3 linked regions of the Homo sapiens genome follow. The protein of the gene in region 1 interacts with the protein of each later gene in a biochemical or structural test. Each region holds a gene or a part of one and is shown in the gene's direction. Other genes may lie near its edges.

Region 1 (9,514 bases):
CGATCCTCTCGCATCAGCCTCCTGAGTAGCTGGAACCACGGGCGCTCGCCACTACACCTGCTAATTTTTTATTTTTTGTAGAGACGGAGTCTCACTATGCTGCCCAGGCTGGTCTCGAACTCCTGGGCTCAAGTGATTCTCCCGACTTAGCCTCCCAAAGTGTTCAGATTACAGGCATGAGCCACAGCAACTGGCTCAAAACATTTATAGATATATTTGTTGCCCTTTTTGAAACTGTCTTCATAGATAATTGCTATTATAAAGTGAATTTGCACCCTTCCTTTTACGTTACTTCATATGTGTGTGTCCAAAAACAATTATAGTGTTAGTAATGTATTTCTGAACTTCGGGTAATGCTGTTCTACTATTTAGATAGTGTTCTACTTTTAAACAATTTTACTGTATATATCCATCTGTAACTCCCTTTAATACAGTTGCTTTTGAAGTTCTTTTTTTAAGGACAGAGTCTTGCTATGTTGCCCAGGATGGTCTCGAACTCCTGGACTGAAGCTGTCCCCCAACCTCAGTCTCCCAAAGTGCTGGGATTACAGGTGTGAGCCACAGTGTCTGGCCTGATAATATGAAACTTTTTCTCAGTTGTTGAAACTTAGTTGTTGGTTTTGCGAGGAAAAGTTGATTCGTCCATTGGTTTTGTGTGCATTTAAAATTTTACCAACTTTAACTGCTACCCTTGTGAGTTACCATTCGGTGGCCACTATTTCTAGTCAATTTCTGCTGACCCACACGGGTCTAAATTTGGCAAGGAAGATTTGATTCCTCTGTCAAAAGTAGCCCATAACATTTATGCTCTGCAGTTTATCTTTTTCTAATTTATTTTTTTGAGATGGATCTCACTCTGTCACCCAGGCAGTGGCAAAATCATAACATACTGCAACCTCCATCTCCTGGGCTCAAGCCATCTTCCTGCCTCAGCCGCCTGAGAAGATTCATTAAAACATGTTTCTTTCTCTCTTGGTTCATGATATGGTTTGGCTGTGTCCCCACCCAAATCTCAACTTGAATTCTATCTCCCAGAATTCCCACGTGTTGTGGGAGGGACCCGGGGAAAGTAATTGAATCATGGGGCCAGTCTTTCCCATGCTATTCTTGTGATAGTGAATAAGTCTCACAAGATCTGATGGGTTTATCAGGGGTTTCCTTTTTTGCTTCTTTCTCATTTTCTTTTGCCATCAACATGTTAAGAAGCGCCTTTCACCTCCCGCCATGATTTTGAGGCCTCCCCAGCCATGTGGAACTTAAGTTCAATTAAACCTCTTTTTCTTCCCAGTCTCAGGTATGTCTTTAGCAGCAGTGTGAAAACAGACTAATACTGTAAATTGGTAGCGGTAAGTGGGGCGTTGCTGAAAAGATACCCAAAAATGTAGAAGCATCTTTGGAACTGGGTAACAGTCAGAGGTTGGAACAGTATGGGGGGCTCAAAAGAAGACAGGAAAATGTGGGAAAGTTTGGAACTTCCTAGAGACTTGTTGAGTGACTTTGCCCAAAATGCTGATAGTGGTATGATCAATAAGGTCCAGGCTGAGGTGGTCTCAGATGGAGATGAGAAACTTGTTGGGAACTGGAGTAAAGGTGACTCTTGTTATGTTTTAGCAGAGAGACTGATGGCATTTTGCCCCTGCCCTAGAGATTTGTGGAACTTTGAACTTGAGAAAGATGTTTTAGGGTATCTAGTGGAAGAAATTTCTAAGTGGCAAAGCATTCAAGAGGTGACTTGGGTACTGTTAAAGGTATTCAGTTTTATAGGGGAAGCAGAGCAGAAAAGTTTGGAAAATTTGTAGCCTGACTATGTGATAGAAAAGAAAAACCCATTTTCTAGGGAGAAATTCAAGCCAGATGCAGAAATTTGCATAAGTAGCAAGGAACCTAATTAGGACCATGGGGAAAATGTCTCCAGGCCATGTCAGAGACCTTCACGGCAGCCCCTCCCATCTCAGGCCTGGAAGCCCAGGAGGAAAAAGTGGTTTCCTGGGGGCCCAGGGTCCCTGTGCTATGTTCACCCTGGGACTTGGTGTCCTGTGCCCTAGCTGCTCCAGCTGTAGCTGAAAGGGGCCAACGTATAACTCGGGCTGTGGCTTCAGAGGGTGGAAGCCCCAAGTCTTGGCAGCTTCCACATGGTCTTGAGCCTGCTGGTGCACAGAAGCCAAGAACTGAGGTTCAGGGCCAGGCACAGTGGCTCACGCCTATAATCCCAGCACTTTGGGAGGCCAAGGCAGGCGGATCACTTGAGGTCAGGAGTTCAAGACCAGCCTGGCCAACATGGTGAAACCCCATCTCTACTAAAAATACAACAAATGCGTGGTGGCGCATGCTTGTAATCCCAGCTACTCGGGAGGCTGAGGCAGGAGAATCGCTTGAACCCGGGAGGCAAAGGTTGCAGTGACTCAAGATCGTGCCATTGCATTCCAGCCTGGGTGACAAGAGCGAAACTCCATCTCAAAAAAAAAAAAAAAGAATTGAAGTTTAGGAACCTCTGCCTAGATTTCAGAAGATGTGTGGAAATGCCTGGATGTCCAGGCAAAAGTTTGCTACAGGGGTGGGGCCCTCATGGAGAACCTCTGCTAGGGCAGTGTGGAAGGGAAATGTGGGGTCAGAGCCCCCACACAGAGTCCCTATTGGGTCACTGCCTAGTGGAGCTGTGAGAAGAGGGCCACTGTTCTCCAGACTCCAGAATGGTAGATCCACCCACAGCTTGCACCATGCACCTGGAAAAGCTTCAGACACTCAACACCAGCCTGTGAAAGCAGCTGGGAGGGAGGCTGTACCCTGTAAAGCCACAAGGGGCGGAGCTGGCCAAGACCATGGGAACCCACCTCTTGCATCAGTGTGACCTGGTTGTGAGACCTGGAATCAAAGGAGATAATTTTGGAGCTTTAAAATTTGACTGCCCCACTGGATTTCAGACTTGCATGGGCCCTGTAACCCCTTTGTTTTGGCCAATTTCTCCCATTTGGAATGGCTGCATTTACCCAATACCTGTACTCACATTGTATCTAGGAAGTAACTAGCTAGCTTTTGATTTTATAGGCTCATAGGTGGAAGGGACTTGCCTTGTCTCAGATGAGACTTTGGACTGTGGACTTTTGGGTTAATGCTGAAATGAGTTAAGACTTTGGAAGACTGTTGGGAAGCCATGATTGGTTGTGAAATGTGAAGACATGAGACTTGGAGGGGCCGGGGTGGAATGATATAGTTTGGCTGTGTCCCCACCCAAATCTCAACTTGAATTGTATTTCCCAGAATTCCCATGTGTTGTGAGAGGGACCCAGGGGAAATAATTGAATCTTGGGGGCTGGTCTTTCCCATGCTATTCTCGTGATAGTGAATAAATCTCAAGAGATCTGATGGGTTTATCAGGGGTTTCCATTTTTGCTTTGTTCTCGTTTTCTTAATTTTTTTTTTTTTTTTTTTTTTGAGATGGAGTCTTGCTCTGTTGCCAGGCTGGAGTGCAGTGGTATGATCTCAGCTCACTGCAACCTCTGCCTCCTGGGTTCAAGTGATTCCCCTGCCTCAGCCTCCTGAGAAGCTGGGACTACAGGCACGTGCCACCACACTGAGCTAATTTTTTGTATTTTTTAAATTAATTTATTTATTTTTCTTTGAGTCGGAGTCTTGTTCTGCCACCAGGCTGGAGTGCAGTGGTGCGATCTCAGTTCACTGGAACCTCTGCCTCCCGTGTTCAAGCGATTCTCCTACCTCAGCCTCCTTAGTAGCTGGGACTACAGGCATGCACCACCACACTCGGCTAATTTTTTTTTGTATTTTAGTAGAAACGGGGTTTTGTCATGTTGGCCAGGATGGTCTCAATCTCCTGACCTCGTGATCCGCCCGCATCGGCCTTCCAAAGTGCTGGGATTATGGGCATGAGCCACTGCGCCCGGGCTTCTTTCTCATTTTCTCTTGCTGCCGCCATGTAAGAAGTGCCTTTCACCTCCTGCCATGATTTTGAGGCCTCCCCAGCCATGTGGAACTGTAAGTCCAATTAAACCTCTTTTTCTTCCCAGTCTCAGGTATGTTTTTATCAGCAGCATGAAAATAGACTAATACAGTTTGTATTACATGGGTATATATATGCATGTATAAAAGGCAAATGTAAGCATGCTTTCTGAAGGATTGATGATAAGCTATTTTCTTCAGTGAATGGAAGAGTTTGATGTAGAAACACCTTTTTGGCCGGGTGCAGTGGCTCATGCCTGTAATCCCAGCACTTTGGGAGGCCGAGGTGGACAGATCACTTGAGGTCGGGTGTTTGAGACCAGCCTGACCTACATGGAGAAACCCTGTCTCTACTAAAAATACAAAATTAAGGCCAGGCGCGTGGCTCATGCCTGTAATCCCAGCACCTTGGGAGGCCAAGGTGGTTGGATCACGAGGTCAGGAGATTGAGACCATCCTGGCTAACATGGTGAAACCGCGTCTCTACTAAAAATACAAAAAAAACATAGCCGGGCATGGTGGCATACGCCTGTAGTACCAGCTACTTGGGAGGCTGAAGCAGGAGAATTGCTTGAACCTGGGAGGTGGAGATTGCAGTGAGCCGAGATTGCGCTACTGCACTCCAGCCTGGGCAACAGAGCGAGACTCTGTCTCAAAAAAAAAAAAAAAAATTAGCCGGGCATGGTGGCACATGCCTGTAATCCCAGCTACTCAGGAGGCTAAGGCACGAGAATCGCTTGAACCCAGGAGGCGGAGGTTGCGGTGACTGAGATCGTGCCATTGCACTCCAGCCTGGGCAACAAGCAAAACTCCGTCTCAAAAAAAAAGAAAAGAAAAGAAACACCTTTGTAAGCACACATAAAGAATATGTTATTAGACAATTTTCCTTTTTCCATTAGGCCCTATGATGCCAAGTAGAGAAATCCAGCAATAAAAGGCAGATGTAAGCATGCTAACTTTTTCTTTTTAAGATAAACTGTACTTAGAATGAAATGCCCAGTGCTATCAATTATATATATTTTTTATTTTCTACTAAGTCTAACTTCCCAGGGTTGATTTTTGCAGCTTCCACTCTACCAGGCTTTGATATATTTTTTTTTTTGACATGGAGTTTCGCTCTTGTTGCCCAGGCTGGTGCAACGGCACGATCTTGGCTCATCGCAGCCTCTGCTTCCCAGGTTCAAGTGATTCTCCTGCCTCAGCCTCCCAAGTAGCTGGGATTACAGGCGTGCACCACCACACCTGGCTAATTTTGTATTTTTAGTAGAGACGGGGTTTCTCCATGTTGGTCAGGCTGGTCTTGAACTCCTGACCTCAGGTGATCTGCCCGCCTTGGCCTCCCAAAGTGCTGGGATTACAGGTGTGAGCCACCGTGCCCAGCCTTTTCATTTGTTGTTTTTTTTTTTTTTTTTTTAACATAGACCTAATTTACTCTGGGTAGTTTTCGGCTTTTAAAATTTTATTCTGTGTTGCTTATTTCTACTGGAGGTGATCATTAAGAAAGGGGTAAAATATCAATGGGTTGCTCTGCTCTTTTTCTTAGTCCAGAAAAAACGGTAAAAATTTATTGCTAAAGATAGATTCTGTTAGTATCTTTTTTTCCCCTACCAGATTTATCTTTTTTTTTTTTTTTTTTTTTTTTTGAGACAGAGTCTCACTCTATCGCCCAGGCTGGAGTGCAGTGGTGCGATATCGACTCACTGCAACCTTTGTCTCCTGGGTTCAAGTGATTCTCTTGCCTCAGCCTCTTGAGTAGCTGGGATTACAGGTGCTTGCCACCACGCCCAGCTAATTTTTGTATTTTTAGTAGAAACATGGTTTCACCATGTTGGCCAGGCTGGTATTAAACTCCTGACCTCAAATGATCCATCCACCTCAGCCTCCCAAAGTGCTGGGATTACAGGCATGAGCCACTGTGCCCAGCCCCTACCAGATTTATTCTAAGTGGCCGAGTGCAGTGGCTCACGACTGTAGACCCAGCACTTTGAGGGGCTGAGATGGGAGGATTGCTTGAATCCAGGAGTTGGAGACCAGCCTGGGCAACATAGCAAGACCTCATCTCTACTAAAAATCACAAAAATTAGCTGGGCATGTGTCAGAAGTCCCAGCCACTTGGGAAGCTGAAGTGGGAGAATCACTTGAGCCTAGGAGGTCCAGGCTGCAGTGAGCCATTATCTCACCACTGCACTGTAGACTGGGTGACAGAGCAAGAACCTGTCTCAGAAAAAAAAAAAAAAAAAAAGATTTGTTCAAAGCCCTAGCAGGCAAGATGGTGCACTCAAACCATCTGGTTGAACCTGGGGAGGTTGAACCTGGGGAGGAGACTGGCTAGGCAAGGGCAGAAGCCCAGCAGGGCACCAGAATCCCCCACCCCGGGGTTGTGTGTCTCCAGCCCAGCAGGGGCCTTGGAAGCTCCATACCTCTCACTCTGTCACCCCAATCTCTGGCTCTTACAGATGCGACCTAAAGTCATGTGGCACCTCCTTCGAAGGTACATGGCATCCCGGCTCCATTCCCTGCGGATGGGTGGCTACCTGTTCTCTGGCTCCCAGGCCCCCCAGTTGTCCCCTGCTCTGTTGAGAGCCCTGGGCCAGAAGTGCCCCAACCTGAAGCGCCTCTGCCTGCACGTGGCCGACCTGAGCATGGTGCCCATCACCAGCCTGCCCAGCACCTTGAGGACCCTGGAGCTGCACAGCTGCGAGATCTCCATGGCCTGGCTCCACAAGCAGCAGGACCCCACCGTGCTGCCCCTGCTTGAATGCATCGTGCTGGACCGCGTCCCCGCCTTCCGTGACGAGCACCTGCAGGGCCTGACGCGCTTCCGGGCCTTGCGCTCGCTGGTGCTGGGTGGTACCTACCGTGTGACCGAGACAGGGCTGGATGCTGGCCTGCAGGAGCTCAGCTATCTGCAGAGGCTTGAGGTGCTGGGCTGCACCCTGTCTGCCGACAGCACCCTGCTGGCCATCAGCCGCCACCTCCGAGATGTGCGCAAGATCCGGCTGACCGTGAGGGGCCTCTCTGCCCCTGGCCTGGCTGTGCTGGAGGGAATGCCGGCCCTGGAGAGTCTGTGCCTGCAGGGTCCCCTCGTCACCCCAGAAATGCCCTCCCCCACTGAAATCCTCTCCTCCTGCCTCACTATGCCCAAGCTCAGAGTCCTTGAGCTGCAGGGGCTGGGGTGGGAGGGTCAGGAGGCGGAGAAGATCCTGTGTAAGGGGCTGCCCCACTGTATGGTCATCGTCAGGGCTTGCCCCAAAGAGTCTATGGACTGGTGGATGTAACTACTCCACCTGCCCTTGGGACCCATCCCAGTTTTCATCATTGAGCCCCAGACCCTCTGAGCAGCACCTTGAAGAGGGCAGATAATCAGACTTGAGGAAACTGAAAGCCCCAGGTTGAGAGAACAGAGGCCTAGGGACCTCCAGACCATTGGAATCACTGTTTGCCAGCTGTGTGGCCTTGGTCATATCATCAGCCTCTGGGAAGCCTAGTTCCCACATCTGGAAATAAGGATGATCATAGCTACCTCACGGTTACATTGCAAAGCCTTACTCTAAAAGCTCCCAGCCTCCAGAGGCTCTCAATGAAGAGTCACCTTCATGGTCGTCTTCAGGAACAGGACGGATGAAGAAGGGGTGGGGTTAAGACTCAGGGGCACCTGAGGGTCTGAGCCCCCTTATGAGTACCCAAGAAGGACTGTCTATGCATGCACACCCACAAGCCTATACACCATTTATATACCTACACGCACGCAAGAGACGCGGAGAGATAGGCGATGCAGACTCGCGATTCAATGATCGATATGCTCATAAAAGTGCTCAATTATATTTTCTGTATTTTGTATGCTGTATTTTCCAAGACGTATATTATTTTACTATTAAAGAAAAAAATCATTTTTTTTTCCCGAGAAGTATTCAGTTTATTCATTCAACCAATCTTTCTTGAGCTTCTGCTATTTTGCAGGCACTGTTCTAGGTTCTGGGAAACTGGGCCACCACAGTGAACAAAACTGACAAGACCCTGCCCTCGTAGATCTCATAGAGGAGAAGACAGGACAACAAACAGGTAAGCCAGTCCATGCTTTAGTTTTTTTGTGTGGGGACAGAGTCTCACTCTGTCACCCAGGCTGGAGTGCAGTGGTGCGATCTTGGCTCACTGCAACCTCCGTCTCCCGGGTTCAAGTGATTCTCCTGCCTCAGCCTCCCAAGTAGCTGGGATTACAGGCACCCGCCACCACGCCCAGCTAATTTTTGTATCTTTAGTAGAGATGGGGTTTCACCATGTTGGTCAGGCTGGTCTCAAACTCCTGACCTCGTGATCTGCTCACCTCGGCCTCCCAAAGTGCTGGAATTACAGGTGTGAGCCACTGCGCTCGGCCACCATGTTGTAATTTTGGAGACTCTGAGCCAGTACACCAGGGTCACGTGATGGAGGCATACTTGCATGGTTGAGTGAGCACGGTAGGCCTCTGTGCTGAGATCTGAGAGGTGAAGAGAAAGCAAAGATCAGAAGAGCTAGGGCAGAAGAGGAAAGGCCAGCACTGCTAAGATGAGAATGAACTTGGCATTTTCCAGAAACAGAAAGAAGGTTGTGTGGCAGAGTGAGCAGGGGTAAGAGCTGTCGAAGTTGAGGTCAGGGCCGGGCATGGTGGCTCACATGTGTAAACCCAGCACTTTGGGAGGCTGAGGTGGGTGGATCACTTGAGCCCAGGAGTTTAAGGCCAACCTGGGACATCTGAGGCAAGTGAATCACTTTGAGTTCAGGAGTTTGAGACCAGCTTGGGCAACATGGTGAAACCCTGTCTCTACAGAAAAAATTAGCCAGGTGTGGTGGTGTGCATCTACCCAGCTGGTATCCCAGCTATTCAGGAGGCTGAGGTGGGAGGATTGCTTAAGCCTGGGACTCGGAGGTTGCAGTGAACTGTGATCACCACTGCACTCCAGACTGGGTGACAGAGTGAGACCCTGTCTCAAAAAAAAAAAAAATAAAACAAAAGGAGATAATGGGGACAGGAGTGGGCAGGGCCTTGCAGGTGGCTCAGGCTTTAGGGGTTCAGTAAGTAACACCACCTTTTCCTGCCTTTCGAGTCTGAACCACTTGAAAGATGCAGGTGTCAGATTATAAGTGTGAGTGCCTACCCGTGAGATGAGCGTTGCTGTGTGTGGCTAAGCCCCGGCTCTGTGGGTTCACCACCTGCTCAGCAGGCCCAGGTGCCTCCTCTGGTGCTTAGAGCCAGGTTGGAGAAGAGAGCTGAGCTGGGTACACTTGGTTTCTTATTCCAAGCTTACCCATCAGAGAAGAGCCAGAGATGTTCCTCCCATGCTCTTCCCACTCAGAGTTGCAGTAGAAATTCCTTCTCTTTCTGTCTCTCTTTTTTTTTTTTTTTTGAAACGGAGTCTTGATCTGTTGCCCAGGCTGGAGTGGTGCAGTGGTGCAATCTTAGCTCACTGCAACCTCTGCCTCCCAGGATCAAATGATTCTCCTGCCTCAGCCTCCTAAGTAGCTGGGAATACAGGCGTGTGCCACCATGCCTGGCTAATTTTTGTATTTTTAGTAGAGTTGG
Region 2 (10,204 bases), on another chromosome or scaffold:
CCAGGCTTAGAGCACCCTCAATGCCAGCAGGTCCCTCCTCCCTGTGCAGAAAGCCTGGGATTAGGGGTCAGCCTATGGGGAGGGGAGGCAGAGGAAGGATTGGAAGCCACTCGCTGGAATGTAGGCAGGACCATATATCTATATACAATATAATTATATATTACATATGATATATAGGGTTTTTTAAAAAAATGGAAATACCCTATTTCTGCTGATGTTAAAAGTTATGCCGGGTCTGCAAGTGGGCTGAGTATCTCAGGAAGGGGAGTAAGGAACTGGTAACAGTGGCCCCTCTGTGGGGCAGCACCTGACAGCTGATGGAGCAGGGAGGAGGGAGGCAGACTTTTTTCTGTGCCCCTTTGCTATATTTTACATTTTGTTTCATGAGCATGTAGTGCCTATCTTAAAACGCACCAAAATTTAAAAAATACAAGCTCATTGCAAAAAGTCAAACATTGCATAAGAGGAAAACAGATCATCAATAATTCCACCCCCATCAGTTGTCTCATCGTGTCGGGGGCTACCGTTCTAGTCCTTTCTTGCATGTTAGAGCGTGCACGCCCACACACACACGCACACGCGCGCACACACACGCACATGCACACACACGCACGCACACACACACGCACATGCACACACACGCACACACACACATGCACACACACGCACACGCACACACACACACGCACACACACACATGCACACGCCTGGTACATCTGTTGTTCTGTAACTTGTTTTCTGTTTTTCTTTCTTTCTTTCTTTCTTTTTCTTTTTTTAGATGGAGTCTCGCTGAAAGTAATTATATTACTTACCCGAGGCCTTCAAATACCGCTTCCACTGACAGCCTCTTGACTTCTAGCAAATCTCACTAACCTTGCCTTACCTCCTACCACTAATCTAATAGGAGAACTCTGTGATTATGGCTCCATTCTCCCGGTCAAAGTGCTGGAGTGCAATGGCCCAATCTCGGCCCACTGCAACCTCCTCCTCTCAGCTTGGTTCAAGCAATTCTCCTGCCTCAGCCTCCCAAGTAGCTGGGACTACAGGTGCCTGCCACCACTCCCAGATAATTTTTGTATTTTTAGTAGAGACAGGGTTTCACCATGTTGGCCAGGCTGGTTTTGAACTTCTGACCTCAGGTGACCCGCCCACCTCAGCCTCCCAAAGTGTTTGCTAGGATTATAGGCGTGAGCCACCGCGCCCGGCCTGTAACCTGTTTTCTTTCTTATCCCCAGTGCCTGAGACACCCCTGGTGCAGAGAGAGCCCCTACAAACATGCTGAATAGCCTGCTCCACCTAATCCCTAAATACTGCACAGTAAACCCTTACGTGGGTGTGACAGGAGTCATTTAAACTGTCTCCTTTCTTTCGGATCTTTGGGATGTTTACAATACTTCCCTGTTATAGAAAACAGTGATGACTTTCTTATTCGTGAATGTTTAGGAAAGGCTGTAGGACCTTTTCGTCACAGAGAAGTATGTTTGAAAAACTTTTGCCACATATTGCCAAATTGCCCCCAGCAGGGCCATCCCGATTTGCCACTATACTTTCGTGTATTGGTAGCAGGAATCGCCTCCACACCTCTTTGTGGAAATCTGCAGCTCTCTGAATCCTTGGCGGGCATGGGCGTGCGTCTCCCAGGTGTGGCACGCGTGGTTTACACACCAAGCCTGGTTCAGCTCTGCCAAGAAACCAGCGCTTTTTAGAACAATGGCTTAGCCAGGAGGGTGGTGCTGGGTTTTTCTTTATCGGCTTGGGTGTGGAATCGCGGACTGCGCCCCTCCAATCTGATCTGGAGAGTGGCTGACTGCGTGTGCAGAGCTCTGGGGGTGTTGGTCTGGGATTGTGCCATCAGCTTTGCAAGCAAGTAAGGGAGCGGAAAAGGCCGGGAAAGGCCCTGCCGCGAGCACGCTGCCAAGAGCCCCCAGCAGCAGTTCGGCTTAGGACTCGGGTTGCGGCGGGTGTCACCTTCTCAGGGGCTAGCAAGGCAGCCAGGGCCCAGGCGTCTGAGTGAGGGGCGGGAGAGGAGGCGAGGCAGAAAGTGGACCTTCCAGCGGAAAGGCCATTTTCCCCAAGGCCGAGCCCAGGGAAGTCCCTTCCTATAGAATTCAGGCAGGGTGGGAGGCAGGGCGCGCTCGTGCCCCTCAGCCAGCTGCAGGTGCTCTCTGTCCCCAGGCGCCATGAGCAAGATCAGCGAGGCCGTGAAGCGCGCCCGCGCCGCCTTCAGCTCGGGCAGGACCCGTCCGCTGCAGTTCCGGATCCAGCAGCTGGAGGCGCTGCAGCGCCTGATCCAGGAGCAGGAGCAGGAGCTGGTGGGCGCGCTGGCCGCAGACCTGCACAAGGTGCTCAGGCTGGGCGGCCGCCTTCTGCCAGTGTCGGGGCCATGCGATGGGGCGTGGGGGGAGGGGCTGGGGAGAGTGCGACCCAGAGAGGTTCAGGAAGGACTTGGGGCCACCTGGCCCCTCGGTCGCGGAGACTGGGCGCACCGCCCTCCCCTCCGCCGCGCCCCGCGCGCCCCCGCCGCCTCTTCCGCCCTCTGGCCTTTTCCTCCTGGCCCGGCCTCCGCGTCCCGCCCGCAGCGTCCCCCATTTCAACTTCCTGCTGCCCCGACACCCTGAACTTCTGGTCCTCCCCATTCCTCAGCCCCACGCAGGACCACTTGGTTCTCCACACCAGGAACCAGAGCAGCTTGGCACCCCGGAGGGCATGGGGGGCTCTCCCCTCCCTCCCAGTTCTCACAGGGGCTGTTCCGTCCCTCACCCTGAGCAAGACCAGACACCTCTGCATTCGCAGCCCCCTGCTGTCCCCACATGCTGCCTGGGGTCCAGCGCTCCGGAGCCCATCCTCCCACCGACTACCCTCTTTGCTCCTGCACTTTTATTTTTATTTTATTTTATTTATTTATTTGAGACAGAGTCTCGCTCTGTCGCCCAGGCTGGAGTGTAATGGCGCGATCTCGGCTCACTGCAACCTCCGCCTCCCGGGTTCAGGCAATTCTCCTGCCTCAGCCTCCCCAGTAGCTGGGACAACAGGCGTGTACCACCATGCCCGGCTAATTTTGTATTTTTAGTAGAGACAGGGTTTCGCCATGTTGGACAGGCTGGTCTTGAACTCCTGCCCTCAGGAGTTCCTCAGGAGGAGTTCTCGGCCTCTCAGAGTGCTGGGATTACAGGCATGAGCCACAGCGCCGGGCCTGCTACTGCACTTTTCAAGAAATGGCTCAGGACTTCTCATCTTAAACCAGAAACAACAAGGAAACCCATTCTGTTGACTTTACAGCTTCTGTGTTGCTCTTCACAGCCCAAGTTTATAAAAGAGACGCGTTTTCCGCCGTCTGCATCTCCTCTTCTCACCCCTGCTCCCCACAGGAGGCCCTGAGCGCCCAGCAGCCCTTGGTCCTGCATCCCCCTCCAGACAACTAAAGGGCCTGGCTCCCTCCACCCTGCCCGGATCCAGCTCCCAGTGCCCGAATCTATCCCCCCTCCCCGGATCCATCCCCCCCTCCCCGGATCCATTCCCACTGCCTGAATCTACTCTCCCCTGCCCGGCTCTATTCCCCCTACCTGGATCCATTCCGTTGCCCATGCCTGGTCCCTTCACCGGCTCTCTCCCCTGGGGCCGCAAACCTACCTGGGCCCCCCTCTGGCAGAAAGGGGTCCTCTCAGACCCACAGGTCCAACGGCTAATCCTGGCTCTGCTTCCCCTGGGAGCCTTCTGCGGCTGCCCCCACCCTGGGCTGGGTGAGTGACCCCCATCACCCTGGCAGCTGAGCAGTGGGGCTCCCCACTCGCCCCAGCTGCAGGCGGGCCCTGGCCCTGGAAGCTCACTCCGGCTCTGTCGCTGCAGAATGAATGGAACGCCTACTATGAGGAGGTGGTGTACGTCCTAGAGGAGATCGAGTACATGATCCAGAAGCTCCCTGAGTGGGCCGCGGATGAGCCCGTGGAGAAGACGCCCCAGACTCAGCAGGACGAGCTCTACATCCACTCGGAGCCACTGGGCGTGGTCCTCGTCATTGGCACCTGGAACTACCCCTTCAACCTCACCATCCAGCCCATGGTGGGCGCCATCGCTGCAGGTGCATGGCCCTGTGGGAAGGGAAGCTGGGGGAGCACCGTCCCCCAGCGTGGAGCCAAGCCAGGATGGGCTCAGGCCTGTGTTAAGAGTCCTGGGGTCAGATAAGGGTTTGCTGGGTCTGTCACAGGAGGCTGTGGGGACCAAGCTGTTTAGCCAGGCCTCTTGGTGCCTGAGGTCCAGTCAGGCTCAGGTGTCCACACCTGGTGATACAGAGAGGGCCTGCCTTCCCCCACCCCTGTTGGGGGGCTGGAGCTTCTGTCACCTAATATGCATCAGGGCTTCCTTCCTAGAATGGGCCAGCGCTGTTCTACCAACCGGGCCCCCAGAGCCTCTCTCCCCTTTCTGCTTTTCCTCCAACATCTCAGCAACTCAGAGGGCCAGGTGGTGCAGCTCTGGCCAGCGTGTGCCCGTGTGTGTCCCTCTGTCATGTGCCCGTGCGTGCTCCTGGGTGTGCCCCGTGACATGTGCTTGTTTGCTAACAACTCTTCCATCCACTGTCCCGAGGACACACAATGGAGGGGAGGCTTCAGGTGTGGTCCTTGGGAGGGCAGAGCCTCTGGTGAAGTACCCTGGGCATAGGCCTGGCTCGGTGTGCTCTGCAGGGAACTCAGTGGTCCTCAAGCCCTCGGAGCTGAGTGAGAACATGGCGAGCCTGCTGGCTACCATCATCCCCCAGTACCTGGACAAGGTGAGTTGCCCTCCAGGGCCTCGTAACTCCATGGCCTCATAACTGAGCTAGGGCCAGGTCTTTGGGGGGTGAGAAATAGTGAATTCTTGCAGCAAGGGGCCAAGCTACTGGTGGGGCTGAGGATTGTTCTTAGCAGCTGCCCTCTCTCATTGGGGTGAACAGAGCCCCTGGGCCAGGAAAGGCGGTCTACTGCCAGTTACTGCTACCCCCCGCCCAAGGTGGGGTGCTGAGCTTCGGGGCTGCTGGTCTTGGCCACTGCAACTCACCCACACTTGCAAGAGCGAGGAGGGGCTTGGTCTTTGCTGAGCCTCCCCTCTCTCCTTGCATGGAAGGATCTGTACCCAGTAATCAATGGGGGTGTCCCTGAGACCACGGAGCTGCTCAAGGAGAGGTTCGACCATATCCTGTACACGGGCAGCACGGGGGTGGGGAAGATCATCATGACGGCTGCTGCCAAGCACCTGACCCCTGTCACGCTGGAGCTGGGAGGGAAGAGTCCCTGCTACGTGGACAAGAACTGTGACCTGGACGTGGCCTGCCGGTGAGAGGCACGGGCCTGCTGGCTGCAGCAGTCCTTACTCTGCTTTCCAAGCACACATGACTGCACCTCATGCTGTGGGTCCACTCTGAGTAACACAGACACCCCCTGCCTCATGGAGCAGTGGTCCTTGCAGAAACTTACATGGGGGTAGGGGTGGGGACCACATGCACAGAAGACGTGTGGGGAGTCCCAGAAGGCTTCCTGGAGGGGGAGAGGTCTAGGCTGAGCTCTGTTTGCTGAGTGCGCATCACTGGGGAAGTGGTACTCCAAGCAGAGGCTGCAGAAAAAGCAGCTGTGGGACGTTCAGGACACAAGGAACTGTACTGGGTTCAGCCCTCTGATGGGGCAGGGCAATCTGAGTTCTGGAGAGCAGGCCCAGAGGGGAGAAGGGCCACCGCTGCTCGGGGTCTGGGGCAGAACCCGTATCTGCACCTCCTGACCCTAGCCAGGGCTCTGACCACCTCCATATCCCACATCTGTGGCCCCAGAGATGTAGGGGGGCCCGAGTAGCAGTGACACCTGGCTGTGCAGGACAAGGGCGTGATCAGGGAGCACGGAGGTTGCCCTCAACAGACGTCCTCTAGAAATTCCCCACCAGTCGCCGGTGAACATGATCAGGGCCATTGGGTCTGCTCGGTCCAGTGTCTAGAAGTGAGCAGACCGCTTGGGAGGACTCACTGGTGGCAAGGTCACAGCCGATGGCTTCTGCTGACCAGAGAGCTCAGGGGTCTGCAAAACGAGATGCAACTCCTGGGGAACCTTTTGGATTTAGTCCAGTCTGGGATTCTCACAGACGCATCGCCTGGGGGAAATTCATGAACAGTGGCCAGACCTGCGTGGCCCCTGACTACATCCTCTGTGACCCCTCGATCCAGAACCAAATTGTGGAGAAGCTCAAGAAGTCACTGAAAGTGAGTGTTGACCCCTTGGCAGGGTGGGATGAGAGGCTGTAAGGCACAAGGGGGGCCTGGCCCCTTAACCAACTTCTACAGATTTGGAAACACTGGATTTATTTTCTTCTAATATAAACATAATGCAAGCTAGGCATGGTGGCTCACACCGGTAATCCCAGCACTTTGGGAGGTAGAGAGTGGAGGATCACTTGAGGCCAGAAGTTTGAGACCAGCCTGGGTAACATAGCAAGATCCCATCTTTACAAAATATGTTTTTAAATTAGCCAAGCATGGTGGCATGGTGGTGCATGCCTGTTGTCTCAGCTACTTAGAAGGCTACGGCGAGGCTGGAGCATTGCTTGGGCCCAGGAGTTTGAGGCTGCAGTGAGCTATGATTGCACCACTGCACTCCAGCCTGGGCAACAGAACAAGACCCTGTCTCTAAGAGAAAAAAAAAAGATAATGCACACTCACTATAGATTATTTAGAAAAGATTAAAAAGCATAAAGAAGAAAAAAGCTCCACCCAGAATCCCACCACCCAAAGACAGACACTGCTGGCCTGTGTCTGTGCAGCCTTTGGGCAGGACGAGGCTCTGCGTCCTTACCCGAAGCCCCCACCTCTTCTCCACAGGAGTTCTACGGGGAAGATGCTAAGAAATCCCGGGACTATGGAAGAATCATTAGTGCCCGGCACTTCCAGAGGGTGATGGGCCTGATTGAGGGCCAGAAGGTGGCTTATGGGGGCACCGGGGATGCCGCCACTCGCTACATAGGTGCGTGACCCCTGAAGAGCACAGCCCACCTGCCCAGGCTGCAGGGGTCCCCAGCAAGTTCACAGCAAGTGGGCACAGATGCTTGATAAGCGGACACGACCTCGGGATGGGTATAAATTGCTTTCACCAGGGAGCCTGCGGTAGACTCCAGCAGGCAGGGGCTGAGGACAGCCCCTGCTTCAACCTCAGAATCCCCTCTCCCAGCAAAGGCCCAGAAAGAGGGGCCTCATCTCCCTGCCCCTCTGAAGCAGCAGGAGCAGGGACAGCAGAAGCCACAGGAGCCCCAGGTGTGCCCAGCCGTGAGGGGCCCCCAGTGCCCAGGCTGTGGGTCACCAGATGGGACCCTCTTGGCCCCGAGTTTGTCAAGGAGACAAGAGAATTCTGGCAGGGCATCAGGTGGCCGGCAGGTGCAGTGCCTGCTCCTGGAGACAGATCTCGGGTCCTTCCGTACAGGTTAACCTATAGTTGTCCCCAGTGGTCTGCTCAGATGGCATCCAGGACGCAGGTGCCTAGGGTACCTCTCTGAGGCCTCGTCCCTGCCCTTTTCCAAGCCTGGGCAGGTTTGCCTGGAAAAGGGTTGGAGCAGGGGTCTAGGTGCTTGCACTTTCCATCCGCGTGGGGGTCTCTGCGCCGTCCAACTCTGGCTTGTTTCCTGCCTCAGCCCCCACCATCCTCACGGACGTGGACCCCCAGTCCCCGGTGATGCAAGAGGAGATCTTCGGGCCTGTGCTGCCCATCGTGTGCGTGCGCAGCCTGGAGGAGGCCATCCAGTTCATCAACCAGCGTGAGAAGCCCCTGGCCCTCTACATGTTCTCCAGCAACGACAAGGTGGGTGGTGGGCCTGGGGTGCCCTCTGCCAGGGTCCTGGGGCCCACAGACCTGGGTTCAAACTGCAGCTTCACTGTTCTCTGGCTGTGTGACCTTGGGCAAGTCACTGGATCTTTCTGAGCTCCTTTCACCTCGTCTGTAAGATCAGGACAGCAGCATCACCTGAGGGCACTGAATGAGCGATCCTTGCCCAGGGCCCTGCACACAGGCATGGGGGCGGCTGCTGTCACTCTTTGCTCATGTGGTGCTGACAGCCACGCGGTCTGCAGGAAGAGCAGGAGATGGAGGCTAAGGCTCTGCCTCCACCTGCTCCTGTCCTTGTGGCTCCAGGCTATACCCAGGCAGGGTCGGGTTGGGGGCTGGGGCATCCTGTGGGCAGGAGACTGAGGCCAGTGGCTGGGTCCTGGTGCAGGTGATTAAGAAGATGATTGCAGAGACATCCAGTGGTGGGGTGGCGGCCAACGATGTCATCGTCCACATCACCTTGCACTCTCTGCCCTTCGGGGGCGTGGGTGAGTCTGGGGCTGAGCTTGCTGCCTCCCTCTGGGCCCCAGGGCTGGGCACACTCACCCAGCAAATTCAGGAGGGACCACCTCCTGCAGCCCGGGCGGCAGCCTCCCATTAGCCTCTTCCATTTGGACCTTGGCCTCTGCGTGCCATCCATCAGACACACTTAACCTGGGAGCCTAGAGGTTCCTAGAGGTCACCTGGTGCACCGGCCTATTTCATGGAGGCCTGAGAAAGGTGACCCAGGCCAGAGGTCACACAGCCATTTAGTGGCAGAGCTGGGATTAGACCCTTGCTGGGCACTCCCACAGTGTGGATGCCCTGGGGACACCCTAGACATTGGCCACCCTCAGGAGGCCCAGAAAAGGGCCACAACCTGGGGCTGGGTGCTGAGGGCCATAGGATTTGAGGGAAGGATGGGTGATGGTGGCTGGGGCTCTGCCTCCCTGTCCCTGTGGTTCTGGGATACACCCAACAAGGTGGAGAGGGAAACCTGGGGCGTCCTGGGGGCAGGATGCTGAGCCCTGTGCTTACTTCTCCTCCGCAGGGAACAGCGGCATGGGATCCTACCATGGCAAGAAGAGCTTCGAGACTTTCTCTCACCGCCGCTCTTGCCTGGTGAGGCCTCTGATGAATGATGAAGGCCTGAAGGTCAGATACCCCCCGAGCCCGGCCAAGGTGAGAGGGGGAAGGCGCTGTGGGGGAGACCGGGCTGTGCGGGACCAGGGCCTGGGGATCACTGCCCACTCCGTGTCCCTTTCACAGATGACCCAGCACTGAGGAGGGGTTGCTCCGCCTGGCCTGGCCATACTGTGTCCCATCGGAGTGCGGACCACCCTCACTGGCTCTCCTGGCCCTGGGAGAATCGCTCCTGCAGCCCCAGCCCAGCCCCACTCCTCTGCTGACCTGCTGACCTGTGCACACCCCACTCCCACATGGGCCCAGGCCTCACCATTCCAAGTCTCCACCCCTTTCTAGACCAATAAAGAGACGAATACAATTTTCTAACTCAGCAAATGCAGGCATATGGCACTTCTTTTGTAGCCCTGCACCCACCGACCTGTCCTGCCTGATCCCACTGCCCCACGCAGTGTGGTCACTGATGTACCAGCAAAGGCCTCTCATCAGCTGGTGGGGCCTTGTGCCAGGAGGCCATGCACGGTGTCAGGGTGACACTTGTCTTCCTTTTAGACTTGGGGAGGTCAGCTCCATCTCTGGTGTGTCCAGCCAAGGAGAGCCTGAGGAGGCTGGGCCTTGTCGGCACAGTGGCTCAGATATGGGGAGCTGATGCCGTCTCTTCCCAGACTAGCTTCACTATCTCGGGCAGGGGCCACTTTGTGAGACGATGCAGTAGTCAACACAAAACGCCCTGGTGATGTCATAGTGCTGCTCGTGGGGGCAAAGGACCCGAGGCCAGGCAGCACCAGCACCCACGGTGCCTCAACTGCATGGCGTTGGGCTGCAGCTGGCCCAGAGTCCCGCCCCAGAGGCCTGAGGAGCCAGGACAGGGTCTGGCAAGGGGAGTCTGAAGCTGGGTGTTCTGGGGGCTGGTTAGACTCAGAGCCAGGAAGCCTCCCAGCCTGGGCCTGGCAGGTAAGGGGAGGCTGCTGGGGGAGACCTGCTGAGGCTGGGCCTGTCCCTCAGGGTCCTCTACACAGACTCTCCTGGTATCATGCAGGAAAGCCCTCCCGGCTTTTGCTGAGATTTCCTTGTGAAAACATAGAGTTTTGTGCCACCACCAACAGGTGTGCCTGGCCCCACCTGTGCCTGCTCCCAGCAAAAGCCCACCCTCCACCTGGCCCGTGCCCCGCCACCACCACCCCCTTCCCACTCCTGACCTTACTCTCTCTCCTGCATCTTCAGTTTCCCCTTCTGTCCTGGACCATTCCTATTCT
Region 3 (10,377 bases), on another chromosome or scaffold:
TACTTTTCTGCTATCATGAGACTCTTATCTCTCAATAGTTCCTTTGCTTGTGCCTCTATGAATAGAACTGCAGAAGGGGTCTCTCCTGTGTACTTGTGGGGTATACTTTTATTTGCGGAGAATTTCATAGTCAACATTAAACATGAACAACCTTATTGTACATCAATTTTAACAAATATAGCATACAAATGGCAAATAGGGGAAACTGTTGCAAGGAGAGGGAGCTCTCTGTATTATTTGTTCAATTTATCTGTAAAATTTATTAAGAAAATAAATCTATTAATTAAAAAAATTATCTGGATGTGATCAGGAAACATCCTGTCTCTTGATATATTTAACATATTAGAGCATCAGCTGATTCAATTTTTAGAGACATTCAGCTTTAGCCAAAGTGGTTGAAACCAGTATATGTATTTATTTCCCAGGTTATTTTAGAGTTTCTACTAATAACCTGACATTTATGCTTTTACAAACCTGTCAAAACTTTCAATTAAGGCAGAAAAATCACAAATGTCTGAAAGGAGTCCACATTACCCAAACACCTTTCATACAATCAGTATGCCTAACAGCTTTTGGCAACATTTTTGAAGTGTCTGGTATCTGGTGATCACAGTGTAGATAGCAAGAATATCTCCATCGTGTCAGATATTAAGGCATAGTAGGACATTATTCTTTACCAAAGTGATAAATTACTTCTAAGTATATTGAATTCAACAACAAAGAATGAATTTGCTCCATTTTTTAATTCGGAAAACAGTTTTTAAAGGCTCGCTTGTTATACCCGTGACTTTAAATTATAGAGTAAGAATGAAAACAAGATTTCTCCTCTCTTCTCCAGTGTCGGAAGTGTTTTCATCAGTGTTTCTCTACTACTATTTTAATGTTGACAGGAATGATGTCATCATGATATGTCTGCCACAGGTATTTTTTTAAATGCATTTTATCAGAGGAGTGGAAACAACTCATCCTAAGCCCTTTTTCATTATTAAAGACAAAACAGAACTATAATATAATCTCTAGGAAAAAAAAAAAAAAAACACTTCAGTAAGTTCCCACAAGTATACCTGAGTCTTTACAGCAACTGCTGCTACAAAACACTCGGAGAGATTGGCAAATTTCCAAACAATTGCTGGACATCACATACTGCATAATATAGGCAATGACTTAGAATTATTTGAAAAAATAATCTGGGTGGAAGCAAGGGTGTTAGTTTGTTCTCATGCTGCTAATAAAGACATACCCGGGACTGCATAATTTATAAAGGAAAGAGGTTTAATTGACTCACAGTTCCACATGGCTGGGAGGGCTCAAAATCATGGTGGAACAGGAAGCAAGACAGGTCTTATATGGCAGCAGGCAAGACAGAGCTTGCGCAGGGCCACTCCAATGTATAAAACCATCAGATCTTGTGAGACTTATTCACTACCACAAGAATAGTATGGGGGAAACTGTCCCTATGATTGAATTCTCTCCACCTGGCCCTGCCCTTGACACATGGGGATTACTTACTACAATTCAAGGTGAGATTTGTGTGGGGACACAGCCAAACCACATCAGCAAGTTAGGAATAGAAATTGATAATAAATATACAAGTGTGGGAGGAGGGATAGCATTGGGAGATATACCTCATGCCAGATGACGTGTTAGTGGGTGCAGCGCACCAGCATGGCACATGTATACATATGTAACTAACCTGCACATTGTGCACATGTACCCTAAAACTTAAAGAATAATAATAAAGAAAGAAAAAATAAATAAATAAATAAATATACAAGTGTGAGTAGAAAGTTAAAGGTAATACAGAAGATTAAGAAAAATAAATGGAGAGATGGTTTTGGTGAAGGTTAAAATTGAGAACTAAATTAAAGATGAACCCCATGCCACCAATTTCTGCTCCTTAGGTTTGTTTTAGATGTCAAGGACTGTGTTAAGAGAGACAAGAGTCAAATAGGCACTGAGTAGGCTTTGAGAATATTTTGTACATAACAAAGGAGAAATGTGAGAGCATTAAGATACTAAAATGTGAGAAGGATATTGAACTAAGAACCATTCTGACCCTGCCTAGGCTTTCATTAGTGCAGTGTTTAGAGACTAGGCAGGTGGGCAAATTCAAATATTATGGGTATGATACATTAAGAATCCATAGGCCAGGCACGGTGGTTCACGCCTGTAATCCCAGCACTTTGGGAGGCCGAGGCAGGCGGATCACCTGAGGTCAGAAGTTCAAGACCAGCCTGGCCAACATAGCGAAACCCCGACTCTACTAAAAAATACAAAAATTAGCTAAGCGTGGTGACGGGCACCTGTAATCCCAGCTATTCGGGAGGCTAAGACAGGAGAATTACTTGATCCTGGGAGGCAGAAGTTGCAGTGAGCCGAGATGGCGCCACTGCATTCCAGCCTGGGCAACAGAGACTCTGTCTCAAAATAAATAAATAAATAAATAAATAAATAAATAAATAAATAAATAAATAAAAATACAGGGCCAGCACTAGTATCCAATATCATGATCTCTAGTGTCATCATGAAGAAAACCCCATCTTCCACAAGCTGGACTCCAACTGCCTATTCTAGTATTTGAACACTTTCTGTGAATTGCGCTCTACACAAGCAAAATATAAGATTTTCCCTTCATATCAATGTCTTCCACTTAAATAGTCCGCTATTGCCATCCATCTTGGGCTGCTCTTCCTTGGATAAGCACAGGTATCATCACTCTTTTTGTGATAATGTTTATACAACAGATCTCTTAGAGTACCACCCGCAGCTTTCTTCTTAAGCACAGTGGAGTACAGAAGTGCATCTTAATCAGCCAAGTACACTGGTGCCCTTCTCCTTGTGACTAAGCACCTCAACATCCTTAACATCATGCACCTCTAATTTTCTCTTCCGTCTCCACTATTCCTAGGACATTCAATTAGTGGTTTTGAAATTCTAAAACAATCATGTGGGTGCTTACACAAATGGCACTGAACAGCACCATGGAGAATGTACTCAATAGCAGTTTTCTGAAGATGTAAACATGCTTTGTATACATGCAGTTTCTCAGGCCCATCTCAAAAAAACAAAAAAACTTTTTTAAAACAAAAGGCATAATGTTAAAATACAAATCATTGATAACATGGTTTTGGGGACAAGATAGGTTGACTATATTTTTAATTATCCCTATCCAAGAATGTTGCATTCTGATCATCTAACTCATTTCAACAGAACACACTATCTTGAAGAATGAATGTATTCTTCAAATATCAACTATGTTAGCTTTGTTTTTGTCAAGAATTAGAAAGCAATAAGGTTAAATTTTCAGTCAAGCCTATACTTAACACAAATCGATTGCACATTTCAAAATAGCTAGAATAATTTGAATGTTCCTAGTGTAAATAGAAGATAAATATTTAAGGGGATGGATATCCCAATTACCCTGATTTGATTTTATGAATTTATCGAATTATCACGTTATCCAAAAACATGTTCATCTAATATGTATCAATAAAAAATAAATTTAAAAATAAAAAATTCACAATATTCTTCGTGGCTAACTGAAGAATGACCAATTTATTTTGAATAGAAAACATGCAGACAGAAAAACTATCATGAAAATTTAAACATGTGAACAGAGGGTAGGAATTTTAAAACGGTAATTTTTCTTAGAACTTTAAAGTTCAAGAAAAATACCTTAAAACCAACATAAAGAATAGCAGGCACTGTACTAAGCAGTTCACCCACAGTATCATGTTTTAATCTCACCACAGCCATAAGGCGGTAATAGCATGCATAGATATCATTCCAATTTTTCCTGTTGCAAGTAACAGAAAACCAGACCCCATCTGGCTGAAGCCAGTAAGAGAAAAGACTAACAGGAGGGCCAGCCTCAGGACTCAAATACGTCACCAGGACATGGGTTGCGTCCCAGTCTCAGCTCTGCCAGTTCCTGTAGAACCCTCCTTCCAAGGTTCACAGGGTGGCTACCATAGCTTCAGGCCCTCACCTCATGATAAGACAGCAATACAACTGCCATTTCATGTCTGTTGCTGTTTCTACATTCAGTTAGAATTAAATAAATTTTCCAGTAGCACCCACAAAAATACTGAGTCCACCTGGTTGGCCTACCTAGATATATCGCCAGCCCTGATCAAGTCACTGGTCACGGGCCTGGATTTTCTGGTTCGCTTAGGCTAATCATACGTCCCATCCCAGGACTGAAGAAGTACCAGGGCTGTTGCTGGAGAGTGGCTAATGTCCCCTTTACAAATAAGGAGCTCATGGTTTAGGAAGATGAGCTTGCCAAAAATCACACACTTGTAAAATAAGTCAAAATTTGAACTTAAGTCTACTTATCTGAGCCCAAAGTCTTACAACCATTTATGGCTGTTATCCTAACACCTACGTCGCGGAACGGAAGAGTCCTAAGACTGCAAAGACCCTTCCTTTTCTTCTAGATCCAGTCTAAGTTGGTTGGTAATTTCTTTAGACCCTGCTTTCAGGGAAGTTTAAAAAAAATTACTTGCATTTGTATATTTTCCTTGTATTTTCGGCCAAATTTCTTCTAATTAAAGTACAACATAAGTTGAACCAACACAATAATTGTCATATTAAGAAAAGATAAAACAAACTTTACTCATTTCTGCTTCTGGGCATGGAGTGTGAGGGACCAGACTTAAGTTCTCAAACAACTACAAAATCAGACCAAAAAATACAATGGTTTCCAGGCACCGGACGACAGGCAGTGCAGGGCTGTGATCCTTAAGAGAAGGGAAGCAGCGAGCCAGAGTATCCAGGCCACAACCCAAATGGAGGCCAAGAGAGGAACAGCAGAGGATACAGAGGGAGGGTTCCAGGGGCCAAGACGCAATCCGAGGGGAAGCCCTTCCGGGGAGAGCTGGAGTCCTGGGGTGGCCTTCTCGAGTCTTCCCGAGCAGGTCTGTGCAGCGAGGAAACATCCGAGGCTGGAGTGAGCCACGCGGAGGAGGAAGAACAGCCCGAGCTCACAGGGGCGGGGAAGAGTTCTAGCTCGCGACAGCCCCTGGGAGGAACCCTGCACTATTTGTGGCGTCGAGTAAAGCACCGGAAGGCTCTGCTCAGGAGCGTGAACGACACCGCCCGCTGCAAGCCTGGAAAGGAACGCGTTGCCTCAATTCACTCCGATGTGTCACACACGCGGCTCAGTCACCTAGGGAGCAGGAAAAGGCCAGCGGGCCACGCAGGGCTCACCCGGGCCTGCATCCAAACGCAAACGGCCAGGCCCACGAAGCAGGAAACACAACCCGCAACGAGAAGCAAAGGGATCCACAGAGAAGGGCCAGGAGTCACGGACGACGCCAGGCAGTCGGCGCCTGCGCTTCCGCGAGCCAAGACGCCTGAGCGGCGCGGGGGGATCGGGGGATCCCCCAGAAAACTGCCCTCGACTAACAGCGCAGCGAAGGGGCGGTGCGCTCGAGACCCTGGAACGGGAACGACCACAGCCACCGCAGGGAAACAACCGGGGCCCAGGCCCAGGTGGGCGGGCGGCTGAGGAGCGTGGCTGCGCCCACAAAGCCGCCGGGGGCTGCGGACTACAGCGAAGCCGGCGCGGGGCTCGGCCCTCACTACACGAGGCCTGGGCGCCTGCACGCCCCCGTGCTTCAGCCCGCGGCTCCCGAACACCCCCGCCAGGCGATCCCCAAAAACGCCCGCTGCGCGAGCCTCGACGGGAACGCACCTGCGTCTAGACGCTGACGCCGTGCGCGGGGCGGGGGCCGGCGAGCATGCGCAGTGTGGTGTGGACAGGGCGTGGTTGGCAAGCATGCGCAATGTGGGCCGGGCGGGGCTGGCGAGCATGCGCAGTATGGGGCGGGGCGGGGCAGGGCTGGTGAGCAAGCCCGCGGGGAGCGAGCGCGGAGGCGGGCGTTGCTACGGCAACGGTGGGCGGCCAGGGAGTTGCCTGAGGGAAAAGGGGCAGACGTCCCTGGGTTCCGGTGTTCGCGGAGGAGTCGAGGCACGGAGAGGCTTCGGGGGAGGGACGGAAAGAAGGGTGGCCCGCCAGGCGGGCGGGGTCCATGGATTCGGGGTGAGGGCCGTCCGCGGCCTCGCTTTCGCCTCCTCCGAGCCGGGCCGGCGATGGCCGCAGCTGTGAGGCGAGGTCGGGTCCCGTAGCGGCGCGCAGCCTCCTTGGGGGACTCGGGGTCCTGGTTAGTTTCCACAGCTCCTTCTATCTGAGGGGTACGAATTTACGGCTGCCTAAAGCCTTAGAACAGTGATCCCACGTCGGTAATTTTAGAACCCGGTAGGACCGGCTGCCATCAGGGGCCCCAGGTGCAGGGTGGTGTCAGCTTTGAGAGGAATTGGAGCCTCGTCACCGCGCGCTTCCTGCATGAGTGGAACCTCAGAAAACGGTCAGCGGGGTTCAGAAGGCAGGAGATAACACCAAGACCCTACGTAGGATTGCATCTTTACGTCGTAGGCTTGGTCTCGTGTATTTTTATTGAGCGTGTTTAATTAGCTGAGGTTACTCGCTTTGGCACCCCAGTGATCGTTTTTGCCACCAAGCTCTGCCTCTTGAGCGTTTAATACTGGGATTTACAAAGCAACGGGTTCCTGTTAATCTTAGCTTTCAATACTGGGCAAGGGTTACGTTTCTAACCCTACCAGTGCCGCAGGCTCATTATATATTGAAGGACTCACCTGGTATTTGGTTTTCTCATTTATAAAGTGGAGTTGGAGTAGGTACTTGAAGGGTTTTCAATACCTTTAAATTCTGAATTTTAAACTCTAAAACTTAATGATACCGTAGGACTTTAAGAGAGTATAGGTTTTAAAAGCTCTTACCTTGATATTAATGACAGTGGTCTACTGTGTAGAAACTTGAGATTAAATTGCAGACTGCAGCTATGACCGGACCATTTTTAGTGTGATGCAAACTGTATCTTCTGCAGGTTATAGGCATTTTGGAAGCAGGAACTGAGAAAATTCTGGCAGTGATCTTTCAGTATTTTAAATTCCACCATTTCTCCAAGTTCAGTTGTCTTGATGAGATACAGGGTGGAACTTATTTCAAACATCTCTTGATGCCAGAATTGAACGGGAACAGAAAAGGGCTGTAGTAAGAACCATCATCAAAGCCTCCAGGACTTGAGCAGCGACTGACGTTTTTACTTCTAACCCTGGATATCTCAGAGATTTGGTTCCACTGTGCTTTTCTATCTCTCCACTCACGCCTTAGTGAGTTTGTTCTTTCGGTTGGAGTAATTTAATACAAGTGTTAGTCCTTAGAAATACATTTTGGATTAATTTCTTTCTATTTTTAGAGTTAGGCCCTCAACACAGTAAGTCTTCACTTAACATCATCCATAGGTTCTTAGAAACTGGAGCTTTAAGCCATGCAGTGTACAAGGAAACCAGTTTCACCATAGGTTAATTGATATAAATAAGAGGAAAGTTCCCACAGCACATTCCTGGTCACAAAAACATCGCCAAACTTCTAAATAAAGACCAAAGCACTTCTAATATGAAACACTGAAGTACATATGAGCTCTACATTTAAGAAATATCATTACCCAATTTCTGGTGAATCCATGAGTGACCGGGTTGTGGAGGGGCTGTGTTAAAGATAATGTTGGCCAAGCCAAAGCTCTGAAGCACCTCCCCCTACCATGCAGTTTCAAAACAAACAGGAGCCACTTCTCAGCCCGCTGGGCCTTTCTTACTGCATCGGGTATTGTCCTGCATCTCTGTGTGAATACCGTATGCTTTACGAGTTTTTATTTGACAATAATTTGTATCCTTTCATTTTCCAACCTGCTTATTCCAGTTCAGGGTGGCAGGGGGCTGAGCCCATCCAGGCAGCTCAGGACCAAGGCGGGCAACAGTCCTGGAGAGGACGGCATCCCATGGCAGGGCACACTCACACTCACTCAGACGGGGACGCCCCAGTGAGCCTCACGTGCACAGCTTTGGGATGTGGGAGGAACCCGGGGTACCTGGAGGAAACCCACAGCACATGGGGAGGACGTGCAAACTCCAAACAGACAGTGGCCCCTGCTGGGGATCAATTTTTTTTCTCATCAGCGTTATAGGGAAACAACATTAGAAGAAATATGTTCAAGGGCCTTCTGTGCCAGTTCCTAGATTACTTGAATAACTTTCTATTTCTCCTCATCACAGTATATTTTGAATACATCTGTCTTCATAAAATACACCATGTCCAAAATCTAAAAGGGCCAATTCCAAATTATTCCACCAGCTTTGAAGGGAATTGAAGCAAGAATAACAAGAGTAAGTTCTGTGTGAAAAGACCTACTTTAGATACTTCAAAGGTTGTCTCATTAATCCTTGCGGCAACCCTGCAAAGCCAGCGTTATTATACCTGCTTTATAGATGAGGAGCCTGGGGCTCAGCTGTGTCCAGTATCTTGCGCAGCAAAGCGGTAGAGTTCAATTGGAACTCAAGTTGGTCTGTCCCCATATTCTGTACTTCTGTGTTCTGGACAGACTGAAGTTAGCCAGTGTTCCTCTTGCGTTCCAGTTTCTTCATTGTTCCCTTTCTCCCCAAAATAAGCATATCATGCTGATTTCCAGCCTGCCAGTTCTTTCCTCCTACCTGTAATGTGCCATCTTCATTTCCCTCTGTGTATCTTTCAAATGCCAGTTTAACTGGTTTTTCCAAGTCTCCAGTGTTAGCCTGAAGTTTTGTAGTACTTATGTATCATGTTATATTTAGCAATGGATTAATTCATAGTAATTAACCATTTGTATTAATGTGTCCTCAGGAGCTCAGGGGTGAACTATTTGAGGACAGGGATGAGTCGAAGCATAACTGACTTGAGTTCACCCCCTTCCTCCAGAACCAGAATGTGTAGCTTAGTGCCACCCTGTAGCAGGCATTCCTGCTGCTTCAGGATCTGTTAGACTCTTACAGAGCATCCTCACAAACTTCATGGTTTTTCTGTGCACTGTAACTTTGACTTTCTGTTGACCACGTCTTTGCAGCAGAAGAATAGAAGGAAGGTGATAGGATGTGATGATAGAATTTGTGATAGCCAAGCAACAACTTTTCCTAATTCGGCATGTTAAAAAATAAGGTACGCTATTCTTTTCTTAAACATACACGTTATTTGACTCATGAAATGTATTTTAATTCAGCCATTTGAGAGTATAAAAACTAGTTTGCAAACCCTGCTTGAACTAGGAATTGTCAGCAGGAATGGGCGATGCCAAGTGTCGCATGGGGCAGTGGACAAGCCAATGGAAAAACAATCTCTGGCGATATTTACTGCAAGCATCTCTTAGCTGTTTGGTGATTTTTATTCTGCACAGGAAATTATTAAGTTTTCACAAAAAGGCATAAGCTGAAATGGCAGGAGTCTCCTTAGTAGTTGCCTGGAGTCTAATTTAATTATAGTGAAGCAGCGTGGGTTTGTTTAGGCATGCACAGGTTTATGGGTCATAATGAATTTATTCATATTATAATTAAGGCTTTCATAATTAAATGAAAAGATATTCCTGTATTGTTAACATAAATGCTGAGACAAGGGTCTGCTCCTACTTAGGTAACAATGAGTCAAGCATTCCTTACTATTTGATTTGGTTGTATGTGCCATCAAGGTTGAGTATTGAAGCCTCAGTTCTCTTCTAAATGATATATTACATAATACTCCTCTAAATATGACTTTTTTCCTACTTTTTAGGGTCACTCATCTAAGAAAGATAACTTGGCAGTCAATGCAGTTGCTTTACAAGATCACATTTTACATGATCTTCAACTTCGAAATCTTTCAGTTGCAGATCATTCTAAGACACAAGTACAAAAGAAAGAGAACAAATCTCTAAAAAGAGATACAAAGGCAATAATAGATACTGGACTTAAAAAAACTACACAGTGCCCCAAACTAGAAGACTCAGAAAAAGAATATGTTCTTGATCCCAAACCGCCGCCGTTGACTTTGGGTAAGCTGACGTAGTCATTCATCTTTTGGCTTATTAGGGCTAAAAAAATCTATTGAGATTAATAGTATAATTTTTTATGTTACAGAAATAACTTATTTATAATTATACAGAGAGGTGTGTATGTATTGAAGGTATGTATGTATTGAAGTTTAAAAATGATAGGGGACCATTAGAGCAAGAAGGTAAAGATAGTAATGGTAAGTAGAATAAGTAAAAATGGGAGAACAAAAGAAATATCTATTGATTCACATTGATAAAAATAAATAATTGAGTAAATAAATGATGGAAAAGAAAAATCCCTTATAGTAGAATGAATATAACTCATAAGGATAGTAGACGGGGATAGAAAATCACCTTTGGCAAACACCACAGTAATGATCATCAATACTGAAATTAGGAATGAGAAAAATTTACGTACAGACACAGAATATTGAGGTAGTTTCTCCAGAGATGCAAG

The links.
Region 2: of the proteins of FBXL12 (region 1) and ALDH3A1, one has a biochemical effect on the other in vitro, tested with the Homo sapiens proteins (one study listed by BioGRID).
Region 3: the proteins of FBXL12 (region 1) and RNF32 form a complex in vitro, tested with the Homo sapiens proteins (one study listed by BioGRID and IntAct).

Annotation. Positions count from the first base shown.
Region 1 is NC_000019.10:9,808,614-9,818,127, reverse strand, and holds the end of FBXL12 (F-box/LRR-repeat protein 12), read left to right. Parts: exon of another isoform or gene 1-3,957; coding exon of another isoform or gene 3,958-3,990; intron 3,991-4,853; exon of another isoform or gene 4,854-4,897; intron 4,898-6,410; coding exon 6,411-7,232; 3' UTR 7,233-7,858; downstream 7,859-9,514. UniProt on the Homo sapiens protein: Substrate-recognition component of the SCF (SKP1-CUL1-F-box protein)-type E3 ubiquitin ligase complex.
Region 2 is NC_000017.11:19,737,106-19,747,309, reverse strand, and holds the end of ALDH3A1 (aldehyde dehydrogenase, dimeric NADP-preferring), read left to right. Parts: intron 1-1,697; exon of another isoform or gene 1,698-2,175; 5' UTR 2,176-2,180; coding exon 2,181-2,342; exon of another isoform or gene 2,343-3,740; intron 3,741-3,846; coding exon 3,847-4,078; coding exon of another isoform or gene 4,079-4,679; coding exon 4,680-4,765; intron 4,766-5,097; coding exon 5,098-5,306; intron 5,307-6,099; coding exon 6,100-6,217; intron 6,218-6,832; coding exon 6,833-6,974; intron 6,975-7,635; coding exon 7,636-7,802; intron 7,803-8,214; coding exon 8,215-8,314; intron 8,315-8,856; coding exon 8,857-8,987; intron 8,988-9,074; coding exon 9,075-9,089; 3' UTR 9,090-9,321; downstream 9,322-10,204. UniProt on the Homo sapiens protein: ALDHs play a major role in the detoxification of alcohol-derived acetaldehyde. They are involved in the metabolism of corticosteroids, biogenic amines, neurotransmitters, and lipid peroxidation.
Region 3 is NC_000007.14:156,634,838-156,645,214, forward strand, and holds the start of RNF32 (RING finger protein 32), read left to right. Parts: upstream 1-5,936; 5' UTR 5,937-5,974; exon of another isoform or gene 5,975-7,197; intron 7,198-8,139; exon of another isoform or gene 8,140-8,250; intron 8,251-8,963; 5' UTR 8,964-9,040; coding exon 9,041-9,055; intron 9,056-9,661; coding exon 9,662-9,920; intron 9,921-10,377. UniProt on the Homo sapiens protein: May play a role in sperm formation.